Regions from separate parts of the Homo sapiens genome. Here region 1 is linked to region 2. Evidence: fine-mapped expression QTL. A gene starts in region 2. The other region holds a variant in brackets. All regions are shown on one strand. Distances are between the middles of the regions. Region 1 overlaps PDSS2 (decaprenyl diphosphate synthase subunit 2). Region 2 holds the start of PDSS2 (decaprenyl diphosphate synthase subunit 2).

The links.
Region 1: its variant is fine-mapped to the expression of PDSS2 in whole blood (INTERVAL, PIP above 0.99).

What each region holds. Positions count from the first base shown.
Region 1 is chr6:107,171,088-107,180,467 of GRCh38, reverse strand. The region is part of intron 7 of PDSS2 (decaprenyl diphosphate synthase subunit 2); the gene reads left to right. Among named protein-coding and RNA genes, the nearest start is that of BEND3, 60 kb to the right of the region's middle. The variant G/C (reference allele first, on the strand shown) is at 4,506.
Region 2 is chr6:107,453,790-107,463,169 of GRCh38, reverse strand. PDSS2 (decaprenyl diphosphate synthase subunit 2) reads left to right here and starts at 3,606. Exons shown (of 8, transcript NM_020381.4): 1 at 3,606-4,180. The coding sequence starts at 3,885. RefSeq lists enhancers at 2,644-3,565, 3,286-3,735.

The DNA of each region.
Region 1 (9,380 bases), 280 kb after region 2:
AATATTTAATTCCACCTTTGTTCCTCTTATATCCCCCCAAGTATATTTTTAATCAAATGATTACATCCTCAATGCCTCTCACCCCCTGGGTTGAGGCAGAGAGATTCAATTGGGGTAATCTTTTGAGTCTTATCTGGAAAGCTAACTAGAAATGCCCTTCAGGCTGGCTCTGCGGGTGGATGCTCTGCACTGTGGGATAGCTGGATTCAATTATTGCTCCCAGTTTGTGGTGTCAGAAGCCACCTGTGCACCAGGAGAGCCTGTATGTCTTTATGTCGAAGATAGAGCCCTCTGTCCCTATAGAAAAGCCTGTTTAGTCCATTAAAACTGTTTTAAAGTGGATCTGAAGGGAACACTATCTCTTTCCTTGTCATAAAATATAGTGGAGAGGCATGGGTTTCCCAAAATTATGGTTTTTGAGTGAAAAGAGAGGCACCTCTGTATAGATACTGAACGTAGTTTTAGTAAGTTAGAAGATATCGTTACCTAGATTCATATTTCCACAGTCATACACTAATCCTGCTGTCGGATTTTGTGTTGAATTAAGAATTTTTGTGATTTGAAGCTGTTTGAGCCATCAGAAAGCTGTAGTTGATTCAGTTGGTACATCTGAAGCCATTCCTCTATATTTCCTATGCAGTGTCTCCAAGCACTACTCAGCCTCCCCACTTACCACATCAGAGTATTGATCCCTGATAATGTACTTAACCATCTTTCCTGAAATAACAAGGTGGCTATGTCCCTCAGTTTTCAAACAGAATTACTTAGGTAACAGTAGAGATCATGGGACCTGCAGCATAGCTCAGTGAAGTGTGAAATGTTACTAAAGATTGTAGGTGAGTAGATTCTGTCCTTTTCCCCCGAGTCCTTGACATTCTGGCTTGATGAAAGATCTTAGCTAAGGCCGGATGCTGTGGCTCACTCCTGTAAGAAGGCCGAGGCGGGCGAATCACGAGGCCAGGAGTTTGAGACCAGCCTGACCAACATGGTGAAACCCCGTCTCTACTAAAAATACAATAATTAGCTAGGCGTAATGGCGGGCACCTATAATCCCAGCTATTCAGGAGGCAGAGGCAGGAGAATCGCTTGAACCCGGGAGGCAGAGGCAGCAGTGAGCTGAGATCACACCACTGCACTCCAGCCTGGGCAACAATGTGAAACTCCATCTAAAAAAAAAAAGAAGAAGAAGGATCTTAACTAAATCATAATAAAACCAAAGCTGTACCTCTGAAGATTGATTAGTGTGTAGCGCAATGGTGCCCCCTGTGGAAGATCTCCCTATCCTGGATCTAAGAAGATTATGCTAACCTGTATCTTTAATTGATTCCTAAGATTTGTGTGCAGCTGTCAGAAAAATGGGTAGACCTTTCTATGTGCTGTACTTTCTTTAAGATGCATGCCATTGTATGCGTGCTTTGCAGCGTACACTGTTTAAGACACACACTAAACACCTTAATCAAATGGTTCTATCGAATTCTGTGAATCCCCTCTTTTTATAGAGAAGAGCTCAAATAACCTAACAGTGTCCACACAATTATCTCACAGGGTCAAGATTCTACTCAGGTCTGCTGACTTCACAATGTGTATTCTCTTTTGTTATTTGTTTTTTTTAAGAGACAGGGTTTCACTATGTTGGCCAGGCTGGCCTCGAACTCCTGTCCTCAAGTGATCCGCCCACCTCAGCCTCCCAAAGTGCTGGGATTACAGATGTGAGCCACTTCGCCCAGCAGCAGTGTGTATTCTTTACCACCATCCTGCTTCTCAAAGTGCTTTAGACATACTACAAAAAGTTGTTGTTGTATTCAGGCTCTGATCTTGCAAGCATCCAGAAAACGGTGTGTATTAGTCTATAATCTAACATAATTCTGGTCTCAGAAATGTGATTGTCTAATAAATGACTGTGCTAGGATTTATGTTTGCTGAACCAGTGTAATAATTATTGTGACTTTAAGCTGATAAGCATGCTTCACTTTTGAAAAGAAAGTTTTATAGATAATAACCATTTAAAACAAACTCTGATCATCATTCTCTTGAAAGAGGCACAATCTAAGTTAACAAATACACCTTCCATAACACCATAGCGTAGAGACCTCCTACATTTGGAAGAGCTGTTAATCTTGCAGATATGATTACACTTACATGGCACAGAGTAAATATACATTCTTCACCTCATACATTGGCCCCCACACTGATGCAACCTACCTAGAAGACGTGGCTGAAGCCTACATTTATTTCATTAATAAATGTAGATAGAATTTCTCTGTCGTTTGAGGTGCTTTCTTGTGAAATTATAAATGTGTTTTAAACTCATCTTATATCAGGATGTATTTTAGGATGCTAGGAATCTAGGATCACATGGATGATGATAGTGGTAGTTTGGGGCAAGTGGTCCCTAGGTATCAGCATCCAAATACTAAAGCACATGAAAATTGGAACATGAGAAGGATATAAGAAATGTATAAGTAAGATAGGGATTCAAGTAAAATAACAGAAACCGAAACTCACTCTTAACATAGTTTATATATTCCTCAAATACCCCCAGGACTATTTGATTCCTACATGATGTGAATGCTCTCATCCCACAGTATTCTTTTTAATTAAATAACCAGCTTAGTATTTGTCATGAGATTACAGAGCTTACTATTTATTGATTCACTCCTAAAAAAGCTACAGGCAAGAGTGGCTCATTGCTGCAGTCTACAGCCTATGACATGTTTTGCTTGTTGAATTTCTATTACAGAGTTTGCTAAAAAGCTTTACAGTCCCAGTTTTGCTTTTGAATTTCAATGTGTAGAATTAAGTTTCTCTTTGGAATATGATACTAAAATTAAAAATTAACTTTGAATCAGAATATGGATAAATCCATGATTATTTATAAATCACCAAATATTCCTTTGGAAGACATGACAACCAAGAGGCAGTGATTGCTTTTCCTGTGAAATTAATCCTAAATGTAATATAATTCTATATTACTAACCTCAAATGCCAAACCTATCAAATGTTGATGCAAGTTTATAAATTAAGAATTACAGGCTGCGCATGGTGGCTCACGCCTGTAATCCCAGCAATTTGGGAAGCCAAGGCGGGCGGATCACCTGGGATCAGGAGTTTGAGTTTGAGACCAGCCTGACCAACATGGCAAAACCCCGTCTCTACTAAAAATACAAAAATTAGCCAGGCACAGTGGCACATGCCTGTAATCTCAGCTACTCGGGAGGCTGAGGCACAAGAATCACTTGAACCCGAGAGGCAGAGGTTGCAGTGAGCCAAGATTGCAACACTGCACTCCAGCCTGAGTGAGAGTGAGACCCTGTCTCCCAAAAAAAAAAAAAAAAAGAATTACATTACGTGTTTCAGCAGATACATGTAAAGAAAATAGAAAAAAAAAAAAGAATTACTTCGTCCATTTTGTCTCATTTAATTACATTTTGAGAGCAGGCATGTCTGCTCATACCCTGAAATGCAGGTTTTTTTGGTTTTTTTTTGAGACAGGGTCTCACTCTGTCATCCAAATTGACCTTCACTCCTTGACATAGCAAGCACTACTTTGTCTCAGTTCTTCTCTGCCATTCTGTCAACAATTAGGTCAATTTTAAGTGTACCAGTAAAATTATTTAAACTATATATAAATACCTCTAAACCATATAAACATGTTTATATGATGTAGATATATTTTATATCATATAAATGTATCCCTACCATATGGTTTAGGAGTATTTATACATATACAGTAGTATGGTTATATCTGTTCAGTTATGATAATTTGTACGAAATGAGCTGTTGCGTTGTGTTCAGCTCTTTGTGGATGGCAGGCCACAGCGTGAACTCACAAACGTACTTAGCAGAGAGGTTGAGCCTTGAAATAAGTTCTGAAGTCTCACTCCCAACAGGAGGCTGCATACCATCCAGACTAAGCATAATAGCCATACAGTTTTAAATTAGAAAACAGTAAAATTGATAAACGTGGAGGACAGGGCAAGAAAAACTATACTAAACATGCTTTTATATTTGTGTGTGTGTGTGTGTGTGTGTGTGTGTATGTGTGTGTGTGTGTTAAGGGGGAATAGAATACATTTTAAATAGTCAATATGATTTGGGAATTCATTTTTCAAAAATAGACATGTTTTGGCCGGGCGCAGGGGCTCAACCTGTAATCCCAGTACTTTGGAAGACTGAGGCCGGCAGATCACCTGAGGTCGGGAGTTTGAGATCAGCCTGGCCAACATGGTGAAACCCCGTCTCTACTAAAAATACAAAAATTAGCTGAGTGTGGTGGCGCTTACCTATAATCCCAGCTACTGGGGAGGCTGAGGCAGAAGAATCACTTGAACCCGAGAGGTGGAGTTTGCAGTGAGCTGAGATTGTGCCATTGCATTCCAGCCTGGGAGACAGAATGAGACTCTATCTCAATAAATAAATAAATAAATAAATAAAAGCAGTGAAAATAACCTGGGGCAATATTTGGTATTGTCACTGCATGAAACCACAAATACCACTACTGCAGT[G/C]AGTGCCTTTGGTTGATAATTTTAATAAAAATAAGTTTTGGTTAGTTAAGGATTTAAGTAAAAATATACTAGTTTTGTTTTGTGACTCAGTGGCGGATGAGATAATACCTGTCTTGCTCAGTGCCTTTAGGTTTAACAACAACAACAAAAAAGTATGACCAGAAGAATATACTTAATCAATTGAGATATGCATGACCTTTTTCTTAGCAGAAAATGTGGAAAATTTCTACCTCCAATTTCTACTGACATTTGTTCTACAACCATATGGCATTTTTAGGTTGGTGGAAAATATATATGTGTTGCAGTAGAGGTACATAATTAAATAATGGCTTCAATTTTCTGCAATCTCTATAAATATGGCTTTATCATAAGCTATTTGACTGGAGGTATTTTTTTTCTAATCTGTGATATGTATCTTTTAAAAAATCTGTCCTTGTACATAGGCATGCAAAGGACATTAGCGATATAGGTATGTGTTATGTTCTCAAATGAAATTGTAATGCTTTCTGGTTTGTTTAAGAGTGAAAGAAAGGGACTATAGCATATTGGTTAAGAACAAGAACTCATCTTGACTCCAGCACTTATCATCTGTGTTACTTTGGACAACTTGCTCTTACCTAAATTTGTTCCTTTGTAAAATGAAAATAATAGTAGCATCTACCTCGTAGGGCTGTTGTGAGGGTAGAAGATAGATATAGGTATAGATACAGATAGAGCGAGAGAGAGAGAGATCTTTTTTTTTTTTTTTCCTGAGATGGAGTCTCACTCTGTCGCCCAGGCTGGAGTGCAATGGCACCATCTCAGCTCACTGCAACCTCCACCTCCCAGGTTCAAGCAATTCTCCTGCCTCAGCCTCCCGAGTAGCTGGGATTACAGGCGTGTGCCAGCATGCCTGGCTAATTTTTGTATTTTTAGTAGAAACAGGTTTCACCATGTTGGCCAGGCTGGTCTTGAACTCCTGACGTCATGATCCACCCACCTTGGCCTCCCAAAGTGCTGGGATTCCTGGCGTGAACCACCACACCTGGCCAAGAGAGAGATCTTAGAACAGTGCTGGGCACACAGTAAGTACTATATATGAGATTGTCTTTATTGTCATTGCTGTTATTATTATTGCTTTTCTAATATTGGGAAACACTACTATTCTTACTGTATTTTTGCATGTGAATCTCATATGATTGAGAAATCTATTTAAAATTCTCTTTGTCTCTTTCTAGTTTTGTCAGATTAAGATGTTTAATTAAGATCGGTGAATTTTTTTTCCTATAGACTCTTGCAAATAATTTCTAACTCTGAGTAAAAAGGAATGCTTTTATGTTGTTTGCAATGCATTTCACAGTTTATTGTATTAGAAAACTGTAGCTTTTCCTTTTGTACCAAGTCTTGCCACTCAGAAGCTGTCAAGACCTTTCAGTTAAGCACTATCAGCTAGAATCTTGGGCTTGGGTAGACCTTTAGAGGCAGCGTCGTCCTATCTTTCACACTGGCGAAGAGTTTCAGTCATATTTTCTCCTACATGTGGTCATCCAGTCACTGAAGGCTTCCAATAATAGGGAACCCACAGCTTGTCAAAAATAATCATTCTGTTGTTAGACAACTCTAGTCATTTGAAGGTTCTTTTCTTATTTATAAGTGGAATCTTCTTCCGAGAAACTTTACCTTGTTGCTGTTTGTTCTGTCCCCTGAAGCACATAGAACAGGACTGTTCCTTCTTCCATTTAATTACTTCAGATATTTGAAGATGGCTTTTATATCCTCCCTTCCTCCAGGTTAAACATTCCCTAGGTGACATGTTTCCAAATCCTTCTTCATCCTAATACTGGACCCAATCTATCATGCCAGTGCCCCTCTTGACTCATGGCCCCCAGGACTGAAAATAGTTTTCTAAACATTAGTTGACCGTCCGTGTGCTGTGAGACCATTCCTGCCTGTGTTTTGGACATGTACACCTGCTGATGCTGCCAAAGTTTGCATTTGCATTTTTTTGTACCTACATCACAGCCTTGGCTGATACCAAGACTGTGGTTATTAAAGATTCTCAACATTTTTCATGAGTCACTGCCAAATTGCAGCTTATACTTTTACAATTAATTTTTGAAACCTAAATATACAACTATATAATTATCCCTGTTAGATTTTACTGGCTACTATCAGTCTTTTGTTCAACATGTCAATACCGTTAAAATTTTGATACTATCCATGTGTTACCTATCTCTCTTGGCTGTGTGACATCTGAAAATTAAAATTTAATATGCATTTCTTCTTCATCTTCATTCAAGTAATGCATAGAAACGTGATAAGAAGAAGAAACCAAGCATTAAGTTCTGGTAGCATGACACTAGAGACTGCTTTCCTGTTCTAAGCGTTTTTTTTTTTTTTTTTTTTTTTTTGAGACAGAGTCTCATTCCATCACCAGGCTGGAGTGCAGTGGCGCGATCTCGGCTCACTGCAACCTCTGCTTCCCAGGTTGAAGCAATTCTCCTGCCTCAGCCTCCCGAGTAGCTGGGACTACAGGTGTGCACCACCACGCCCAACTAATTTTTGTATTTTTAGTAGAGACAGGGTTTCACCATGTTGGCGAGGATGGTCTCAATCTCGTGACCTCAGGTGATCCGCCCGCCTCGGCCTCCCAAAATGCTGGGATTACAGCTGTGAGCCACCGCGCCTGGCCTGTTTTCCTGTTCAATATAAATCCACTACTAAACATTTCCTAGGAATAATTATTTTACATGTTCAAATCTATCTTACCATACTGTGACCTGTACCCTGTTTCTCTGCCTTATTCATGAAGGACTAAACTTCAAAAATCCAAAGTTACTCTATCTTTTTTTTTTTTTTTTGAGACAGAGTCTCGCTCTGTTGCCAGGTTGGAGTGCAGTGGCACAATCTCAGGTCACTGCAACTTCCGCCTCCTGGGTTCAAGCGATTCTCCCGCCTCAGCCTCCCCAGTAGCTGGGACAACAGGTGCACGCCACCACACCCAGCTAATTTTTGTATTTTTAGTAGGGAAGGGGTTTCACCATGTTGGCCAGGCTGGTCTCGAACTCCTGACCTCGTGATCTGCCTGCCTCGGCCTCCCAAAGTGCTGGGATTTCAAGCGTGAGCTGCCGTGCCCAGCCACTCTATCCTATTTCTGAAGCTACCAGCCAAGTGGCCACATTTTAAAAAAAAAAGAAGAAGAAAAAAAAAAAGAATGTGTGTGTGTGTGTTTTATTATGACTTGCTTATTGTGACCCACTTATCCTGGGGCTGCCACCACCATTGCCTTTTTTTCTAGAGCCCACAAACCATCTGTTTAACAACCCTTTTTGAAGTTTTGCCATAAATTCTCCATAAATTCACTGGTCTGTGTTTCAGAATGCTCCTTTGTCCTCTTTTTTAAAATTATTATTTATTTATGTATTTTGAGACGGAGTTTCACTCTTGTTGCCTTGACTCAAGTGCAATGGCGCAATGTCAGCTCACTGCAACCTCTGCCTCCCAGGTTCAAGTGATTCTCCTGCCTCAGCCTCCCAAAGTGCTAGGATTACAGGTGTGAGCCACCATTCCTGGCCTCTCCTAAGTCTTAAAGTCTTTCTCTAGTTTCCTTGGGCAGAAGTGGCTGCTGCCTCCACTTCTCCTAAGACTACTCAGAACCCATGCCGGGGCCTTCTCTTTAATATTTTAAAAGAACTTTTAGAACTTTTGAACTACATAGTTTTCAGAGACATACAGTGATTTTCTCAAGAGGGTCTTTTATGTAAGAGCAACATGTATCATTCAAAAGGTGTTTAATAAATGTTAAATAATAATGCACTTAATTTTAAGTACTTTGTATCCTCTTCTCTCTTTGTTAATATCTTTAATTGGATCCCCTAGCAGGGGATTTGGACTTAATTTATTTCAGGTGATACTGCACTTATACAATTATTTAGTTGACTTAATTAGAGATTTAATTATATTAGTGCCCTAAAGTGCTATATCAGAGAAATTAAACACTGACTGTTAATTCACCTTTCGTATTTATTGTGCTGTTTATGACTACAGCGATCTTCAAGCCATAAGGGCTTGAAGATTTGGAAAGTTCTTTCTATGCATCAGCTTGGACTTTGCCCATTCAAAATGTAGATGAAGGCAGGAATGGAAATGCCTTTTTTAGGCTGAGTGCAGTGCCTCACGCCTGTAATCCCAGCTCCTTGGGAGGCCGAGATGGAAAGATCACTTAAGGCCAGGAATTCAAGACCAGCCTGGGCAACATGATGAGACCACCCGCCATGCTCATGTCCACAGAATAAAAATAAATAAATTAGCCAGGCATGGTGATGCATGCCTATAGCCCTAGCTACTCGGAAGGCTAAGGTGGGAAGATTGCTTGAGGCTGGAATTTGAGGCTGTGGTGAGCTTTGATCATACCACTGCACTCCAGCCTAGGTGATGGAGTGAGACGCTGTCTCAAAAAGAAAAAAAAAGAACTTGAAAAAAATTGTGGTCTTTTATCTATGGCTATTAGAACCAAGATCATGGACGGTTGTGATGGTTCACACCTGTTACCTAGCACTTTGGGAGGCTGAGGCAGGAGGATCATTTGATCCCAGGAGTTTAAGATCAGCCTCTGGGCAACATGGCAAAACCCATCTCTACAAAAAATACAAAAATTAGCCAGGCATGGTGGCACGTGCCTGTAGTGCCAGCTACTCAGGAGGCTAAAGTGAGAGGATGGCTCAAGCCCAAGAGGTTGAGGCTACAGTGAACTATGATCTTGCTACTGCACTTCAGCCTAGGTGACAGAGTGAGACCTGTCTCCAAAATAAAGGCGTATTTAAAAAAAGAACAAAAAAGAACCAAGGTCATGGGTCCATTCCTTCACTGTTCTACTTAACCCTCTCTGTTCTACAG
Region 2 (9,380 bases):
TTTCACCTCAGTGTAAAGAAATGGCCCTCGTTCTTTTTCACAGTTGCATAGTTTCATTGTGTAGATCTACTCGAGTTTGTTCAACCAATCTCTTATTTGGGGTTATCTGGATTGTTTCCAATCTTTTGCTATTACAAATAATACTGCAATGAATAACCTTGTGCTTAAGTCATTATTTGGGATATTTTCCTAGAATTGGGTTTCTAGGGCAAAGGGCAATATATATGTAATTTTGCTGAGGATTATCAAATTCCCTTCCATAGCTGCCATGTACCATTTTGCATTCTCAATGGCACTATGTGGCATCTCCATAGCCTGCTAACCAAGTAGGTGGTCAAACTTTTGGATTTTTGCCTCCTTTTATCATCTTTGCCCAAGATACACCACGACGCTTTCATCTGCCTTTGGAAGAACTCTCTCAGGATAAACAATAGGTGATTGTATTGAGGGTGACATAAGGAGGGTGGCTGCAATATCTCTATCTATTTCCACTCACCTAATCATGGAAATGCCAGCGCCCACAGCACTATCCTTGTTAAGAGCTTGTATTTTCCAAGGCTGGCTCGGGTTTCCAGCCAAAGAAAAGGACATCAAATATGACCTTACTTCTTTCTAAGGTCAGTAGAATGCAGAGTGCCCAGTGAGTTCTACTGGTATAAGCTTCAGAATCCTGAAAAAGGTAGAGGAGGAACTGTGATCATTTTTTGTCAGCGTGCTGTCTCCAAAACAACTCCGATGCCAAGGGGAAGTCCCTGAGTGTGGCTGAAAGTTTCCATAGGTTGTGGAGTGACCACTCTCTAACCTGCAGGGCTACTCACACCCAGGACTTCTTTTTTGCTGCTTTGTAGGAGTAAATGTCATGGATGGACACTGTTTTTTTCTTTCAGCATCTCCCATTTCCCAGTGGGCAATTTTGCACTCCAGGGTGACAGACATTTGGTAATGTTTGGAGACATACCTCGTTGTCACAACTTGGAAAGGGGTGCTGCTTAACATCTAGTACGTAGAGGTCAGGAATGCTACTCAACACCGTACAATACTCAGGACTGCCCCCCTTCCCCCAACAAAGAATTATCTGGTCCAAAACGCCAAAAATGCCAAGGCTGAGAAATCCTGCTGTATTCTTTCTTTATGCACACATTCACAGACATCTTTAATATAACTATTATCAGTGGCAGAGGAAGGGCAGAATCACAGATACTCCCCCTCCCTGTTTCTCCAAAAGTCACTAGCAATTCAGAAATTTCTTTAATCATAAAGACTCTAAGGAATTATATATTTATCTGGGAGATTAAAGAACAAATACCATTTTAACCTTCTAAAAACTGATTATCATTAAGTATAATGCAACCTTTTAACTGTAAGTATAAAGGAAAATGCTGATTATTTAAAGTAAATGGGACCCAAAGTCCCATGAATAATCAAAAACTTGGTTAATAGAGTATGACCAGAGAATAATGCACTTGGCTTCTGTGGAGAAATTAAAGTACATGCTGTGAATTGCTATTGAGGAAATTGCGTGAAAAGTTACCCTTAAGGTACCATGAGGCTGAAGAAACAGCCTCAGGTGCACAATATATCACATTAGTCTCTATCTATCTTTGTATTTTCATGACTTCTTTCACCTTGGATAACCCAGAAGCTCTGGCCTTGGAACTTTTTGGAATGGTAAAGTATCTCACTCTCCATATTTATTTTCATCTCCTGGAATGGTAAAGTATCTCACTCTCCATATTTATTTTCATCTCCTAACAGACCTGAATTTTGTTGCCAAGAGTTTATCTCTTTCACAGGAATTATTTTCAAACTTCAGCTTACTTACTTTAAGGGCATAGACTGTGTTTGATACTTATAATCACAATTCATGTTAAATAAAATGTGCCCCTGAAAAGTTACACCTAAACTGAATTTTTGTAAATAAAAAATTTAAATCACAAGGAAAACTTGCCAAAGGGAGAGTATGAAGCTAAATCTTTTGTAGAGAAAATCATCTTGTTTTGCAAAGTGAACAACTACTCTTTAAGTCCCAATCTTTATTTGTAGCTCAAGAGGCTGGTACAGTATTATGCATGATGCTCATTTAAAAAATACTGACAGGCTGGGCATGGTAGCTGGTAGCTCACACCTGTAATCCCAGCACTTTGGGAAGCCGAAGTGGGCGGATCACTCGAGGTCAGGAGTTTGAGACCAGCCTGGTCAACATGGTGAAACCCAGTCTCTACTAAAAATACAAAAGTTAGCCGGGCGTGGTGGCAGGCGCCTGTAGTCCCAGCCACTTGGGAGGCTGAGGCACAAGAATTGCTTGAAACTGGGAGGCGGAGGTTGCAGTGAGCTGAAATCGCGCCGCTGTACTCCAGCTTGGGTGACAGAGCAAGACCCATCTCAAAAAATAAATAAAAAATAAAAATAAAATACCATGAATTTGGAAGGATTTTGAAAGTTTTAGAGAGTTTTATAAGCTATTTTTAAGAGTGTAAAAAATGGATAATATATCCTTTATTAAGAACGGTTAACACCTGTTTTAGGTGATAAGAAAGGAGGTAAGATCTTAGGCACATTTGAAAAAAAAATAGGTAGCATTACTTAAAAGATAATCATATTGACTGTTTCCTCTCAGCAATAAGGAGAAAAGAGTGGATGGGAGCCTATTATTTAGACGGTGTAATCTTTCGGTTAGAATACGGATTCTGAAACCAGATTGTCTGGGCTCACATCCCTGTCTAGTGTGGTCTTAGGGAACTTACGCGACTCGACTGCACCTTAGTTTCCTCATACAAAACACGGAGAATACTAATATTATCTACTTAATGAGGTTGTTCTGAGGATTAAATAAAGTAATACATGAACTAGTACGTGAAAAGCACTCCGGTCAGCGATAGTCTTCAATCCTGGAGTTGAGCTCCAGGCTAGGCATAAAGAGGAAGATAAGAGGCAGGGAGTAGGCAACGTTTCATTCTTCCTCTCCGCACCCGCGGGAAGGAGGCACCGCTGTTTCTCCCAAGGCTCAGCGAGGAGGCCGGTAATTCGAAGTTGGATCCGAGGACTTTCCTTGGGACCCCTTTCCGCCGCACCACGCTGCCTTATGTCTGGTTGGGCCCTGAGGACACGAGGGCTCAGCCCCACGCCCCGACTAGGCGTTCCACCACTGAGACGTGGCCCCAGCTCCAGGAGGCATGCAGCCCGAGAGGCCGCCTTCACGCCCGGCCACGGCCACTGCCACTGCCAGGGGCTGGTGGCGATAGCGACAAAAAGCTTCCGGGAGGAACTGGTGCCTCCGCCCGACGCCCTTCCTTGCGGGCAAGCCGGGGGCTGACCGTTGTTCGTGACACCAATACTTATGCATGCCACTCAGTGCTGGGCGCCGGGGACTCTAATGAATCCAGACTCGGCCCAGATACCGTGTGCAGAGGGACCACTCGCCGCCCACAACTGATCCCTGTCACTGACGACCTTTGCTGGCCCAGAGCGGCGGGGTGGGAGGAGCTGAACCTCCCAACCCGGGTTCACCTCCAAAGCACCGCCCCTGCGGGGGCGTTCTCGGGTACGCCGTAAAGTAGAGAGTATACTTAACAACCCGCCTCTGTCTTTACGGCAGGCCGCATTCCATGCCTCCAATATGGCGTCCTCCACATAGGCAGTGGCTGTGGTTTCTACCCCGGGTGGCCGGGGGCAGTGCTGAGCTGGGACTGTTGTTTGCCCAGCCTGGGCTGCAGAAAGCAGCAGTTAAAGTTCGTTTCTGGTCACTGCTCCAGGAAGCCACCTTACTCTGAGGGTCAAGAATTGCCGCTTCCTTTTAGTTACTGTAAGTTCCTCCTCTGCCCCTGGTTTGTTTCCCGCGGCACTTCTGGATACCCCCAGGTCCCAGACCCTTCCAGACTCAAACCATGAACTTTCGGCAGCTGCTGTTGCACTTGCCACGTTATCTTGGAGCCTCGGGTTCCCCGCGTCGCCTGTGGTGGTCCCCGTCCCTCGACACCATCTCCTCGGTGGGCTCTTGGCGTGGTCGGTCCTCCAAGTCCCCGGCCCACTGGAATCAGGTAGTGTCAGAGGCGGAGAAGATCGTGGGGTACCCCACGTCCTTCATGAGCCTTCGCTGCCTGCTGAGCGACGAGCTCAGCAACATCGCTATGCAGGTGCGGAAGCTGGTGGGCACTCAGCACCCTCTGCTTACCACAGCCAGGTGAGCTACCCCTCTCCCGCTGACACACTCGCACTCATTGGAATACTTTTTTTTCTGGCGGGCATACGCATTCTAGCTCTCTCAGACTGGCTCCTGATTTATCTCTTTTTAGTCCTTCCTTTTTACTCACTCCTCCTAGACATTCCGTGTTGTCTCTTCTCTAGTCCACTTAACGTTCTTGCTCAGCTGAGTGCATAAGTGGTTTTCTTTGAAACACTTGTATGCTTTCCTCGATTTTGCTTCTTAATTGTTGAGGATGAAGATGCCTCAGTGATTTGTGGAGAAATCGAGCGGAGATGTAGGTTTATTGAGTCACTTCCTAGAAATTTTTTTTTTTTTTAATGGGATAGATTAATTTTCTGTCCCGCACTGTTCAGGGGGTCACCTCCAGAAAGTAGGCAAGGAGAGAGAGAGAGGCTGAAGGTAGATAATTCTTTCCAACGAATGTCTTGGGGTTGAAGTAGGAATTTATCCCGTTAGTAGTCATTATCTTCTTGGGATGTTTATCACTTATGCTGTACTACTGCTGTGAAACCTGCCTTTAGGATTTATAAAAGTTTTTTTTTTTTTTTTTTTTGAGACGGAGTCTCGCTTTGTCGCCCAGGCGGGAGTAGCTGGGACTACAGGTGCCCGCCACCACGTCCGGCTAATTTTGTTTTTGTATTTTTAGTAGATACGGGGTTTCACCGTGTTAGCCAGGATCGTCTCAATCTCCTGACCTCGTGATCCACCCGCCTCGGCCTCCCAAAGTGCTGGGATTACAGGCGTGAGCCACCGTGCCCGGCCAAAAGTTTTTTTTTTTTCTTCCACTTAAACCCCACACCTGAATTGTAATTAGTTTAAACATACAGCGAAGTTACAAAAATAATATAGTTCAAAGAACACACTTGCATACTCTTTAATCAGATCCACCTGCTACGTAGATATGTCTATATATGTCAATATATACATTAAATACATATACACACAGATATATATACTATTCACGTGTATATATCTTTCTATATATTTTTTTCTGAATCATTTGATGGTAGATTGCATACATCACGATCCTTTTCCCCTAAATACTTCAGTATGTATTTCCTAAGCATAGCAGTAATCTCCTACGTAAGTACGCTACAGTTACCAACTTAGGTATATTTAATATTGATACAATACTTTTATTTAATCTACCATTTAATTTCAATTTTGTTAATTGGCCTAATAATGTTCTTTATAGCATTCTTTACCCTCCAGGACAGGATTCAGTCCAGGATCAAGTATTGCGTTTAGTTGTTATATCTCTTTCATCTTCTTCAATTAGGAACATTTTCATATCTCTTCTTGGCTTTTATGACTAGAGCACTGGTTCTCAACTGGGGCAATTTTCCCCCCCTGAGGACATTTGGCATGTATGGAGACATTTTTGGTTGTCACGAATGGAGGCACATTACTGGCATTTAGTGGATAGAGGCCAGGGATGCTACCCTTCAATTCCCAGGACAGACCCACAAGAAATAATTAGGTGCTGCAAAATGTCAGTAGTGCCAAGGTGGAGAAATCCAGGACTAAAAGGACCTTTTTCTATTGTTGTTTTTAAAAGTAAACTTCTATTTTGAAGTAGTTTTAGATTTACATGCAGTTGGAAGAAATAACACAAATCTAATATACACCTAACCCTGTTTCTCCCAATGGTAACATCTTTTGAAACGATGGTGTAATATCATAAGCAGGGTATTTATGTTGATACAGTTAAGATAAAGAACATATTCAGCACTATAAGGATTCCTCATGTTGCTTTTTTAGCCACACTCACTTCCCTTACCCACCCCTTGCTTTAATTTTTCGAGGCACCTGTCATTTTCTTACTACAAAAGTTATCAAATAGTAATAATAAAGTGATTTTATTCCTTGGCATCGTTCCCAGTTATCAGGAATGTCACCTTATGATTAGCTGGAATGTTAGTTTTCCAGAGATTCTAGATGATACACACTCAAAACACATACACATATGTTTAAAGCTTAATGAAACGAATAAGCCTACTATTACCCAACTTAAGAATTGTAACTTTACCAGTCCTGTTGAAGCTAAATGTGTACTCCTCAGTCCATCTCCCTGACTCCCACTAAACTGTTTTTAAACACTTTTCCTTTTCAAAATTACCAGGGGTCCTGGTGTGGTGTCTCATGTCTGTGATCCCAGCACTTTGGGAGGCAAAGTAGAAAGATTGCTTGAGCCCAGGAGTTCGAGACCAGCCTGGGCAACATAGCAAAACCCTATCTCTACAAAAAATAAAATAAATTAGTTGGGCGTGGGGATGCACATCTGTAGTCCCAGCTGCTTGGGAGGATTGCGATTGCTTGAGCTGGGAGGTCAAGGCTGTTGTGAGCCGTGATTGTGCCACTGCACACCTGTCTGGGCAAGAGACCCTGTCTCAAAATAAAATGAAATAAGTAAAATTACATTGTTATTTTTCTAAATAATAATGTTTCATTTTACTGGTTTCTTTGCAATGTACAAATATGATAGTTTATTGCATATGACCTTATGTGACTTCCTTTTTAAAATTCATGGTTTCTGAGATTCATCCATGTTGTGTGTTTAACTGTAGTTCATTAGGTTTTTACTGTGTGTGAAATTCTGTTGTGTGAATATACCATAGTCATCTTTTGTTTGTTTATTTATTTTCAGACAGAGTTTCACTCTTGTTGCCCAGGCTGGAGTGCAGTGGCACAGTCTCGGCTCACTGCAGCTTCCACCTCCCGGGTTCAAGTAATTCTCCTGCCTCAGCCCCCCAAGTACCTGGGATTATAGGCGCCCGCCACCATGCCTGGCTAATTTTTGTATTTTTAGTAGGGACAGGGTTTCACCATATTGGCCAGGCTAGTCTTGAACTCCTGACCTCGTGATCTGCCCACCTCAGCCTCCCAAAGTGCCGGGATTATAGGCGTGAGCCACCACGCCGGGCCTCACAGTCATCTTGTAATTAACATTTGGGTTGTTGCATTTGTTAATATTATGAAAAATGCTGTTATAAATATGTTTGCATATCTTTTGGTGTTCATGTCACGAGGATATAAAAACAAGAGCGTAATTGTTGGATGTGCACATGTTTATCTTTAGAATGCTTTCTAAAGTGAATGTACCAGTTTATACTCTCATAAACAACTTCTGAGTTCAGGTTACTCCTAGTTCTCATAACACTAGAACTAAGAGATTTCTTAAGTTTTTTTTTTTTTTTTTTTTTTTTTTTTTGAGACAGAGTCTCGCTCTATCGCCAGGCTGGAGTGCCCAGTGGCCTGATCTCGGCTCACTGCAACCTCTGACACCCTGGTTCAAGCAATTCTCCTGCCTCAGCCTCCCCAGTAACTGGGATTGCAGGCATGTGCCACCACGCCCAGCTAATTTTTGTATTTTTAGTAGAGAAGGGGTTTCACCATGTTGGCCACGATGGTCTCTAGCTCCTGCCCTCATGATCTGCCCACCTCCGCCTCCCAACGTATTGGAATTACAGGCATGAGCCACTGCGCCTGGCCCAGATTTCTTAGTTTTTGGTAATCCAGAAGGAGGTTTCTTTGTGTTTGATGGAAATGATAGTGTCAATGATAGGGGCTGTAGTATTGCATTATGAGTATTGTAGTCCATCATAAAGCACAGAAGTGAAAAGGGTGAAGCTAAAAAGAGCCTTATTAATGTGTATATTCTGAGAACCGTAGTTCGTCTACTTAGTTGCAATAGCATCAGATGAGGGTTTGGAGAAGATCTCTTCAGAGGCCACCAGAGGCATCCTAGATGAAAGTTTGTGAGACTAATGGTTCTGAAACTTTCCTAATTGTTGCCTAACCTGCCTTGTAGTACTATAGTACAGTGACAGAACTGGAAAGGCACAGAATAAGTAAGTTTTTGCAAAGTTGTCCTAGCATGTATGTGTTGCTGTATTTTGTAAGAAAAGAAAGAGCTAATCTGCATATAATTTTATTCTATTTACTACAATAATGTGTTGCAAATTATTTAAACAGCCTAAACTCATAGACAGCCAATGAAGAAACTTTTGGGGTGTGGATATGTATCTGTATATATTTGTATATACACTGTACACAGTTATTTCAGCAAAGGAGCAGGCATTTGATCCAGAGGTTAAGCAGGTAATGATTATTGTAAATTATAACTAAAATCAAGGATTAAGCAGCTGTATTTTTTTTGTTTTTTTATTTTTATTTTTTTGAGGCAGAGTCTTGCTCTGTTGCCCAGGCTGGAGCCATTTACTTTTCGAATAAAGCTACATGGTATGTTAGGGGTGAATCATGTCTAATAGCCCTAAAGTTTACGTGAATGGTGACTTTGTTAGCAAACAGCAGGAAAAAAAAAAAGGAAACCACCATAATTTGCTATTCACTGATCTCTTTACCTAAGACATCTTGTCAAGAAAAGGGAAAAACAGCCTAGATGTGACATATATTCTTTAACACTAAATGAGAAATGAGGTTAAAAATCTTGAGGTTTGGTGAGATAATGATTCTGTTACTAGGAATAGAGGAGCATTTAGCTCATTGTTACTCTTGTTCATCTAGATTTTCTAGGATCTCTCTGTTGTAAACTATAATTAGATAAATAATTAATTAAATGTTTATTGAAACTTATGAAGTGATATAAAGAAGTCTAGACCAGGTGTGGTGGTTCACACCTGCAATCCCAGAACTTTGGGAGGCCAAGGTAGGCAGATTGCTTGAGCTCAGGAGTTTGAGACCAACCTGGGCAACATGGTGAAACCCCATCTCTACAAAAAATACCAAAAATTATCCGGGTTGCTGGTGCATGCCTGCAGTCTTAGCTACATGGGAGGCTGAGCTGAGAGGATACCTTAAGCCCAGGAGGTCGAGGCTGCAGTAAGCTGTGGTCGTGCCACTGTGCTCCATCCTGGGCAATGGAGTGATACCTTGTCTCAAAAAAAAAAAAAAAAAAGAAGTCTGAAACATGGACCCTGTCCCTTGATGAGTTGACACAAAAGATATTTACAAATATCTAACAGAAGGAAACAAATGACTTGTGGTTAATGAGCTACCACATAGAGAGATGGCTTGGAATAGTAGAGAACCTTTCATGGAGAAATTGGGACTCCATTGAAGGATGGATGGATAAAAATTACATGAGTAATGTTTTAGGGTAGTAGTTATATAATATTTGTTTTTTTCCTTCATGATTCTTTCTTTTTTCCCCTTT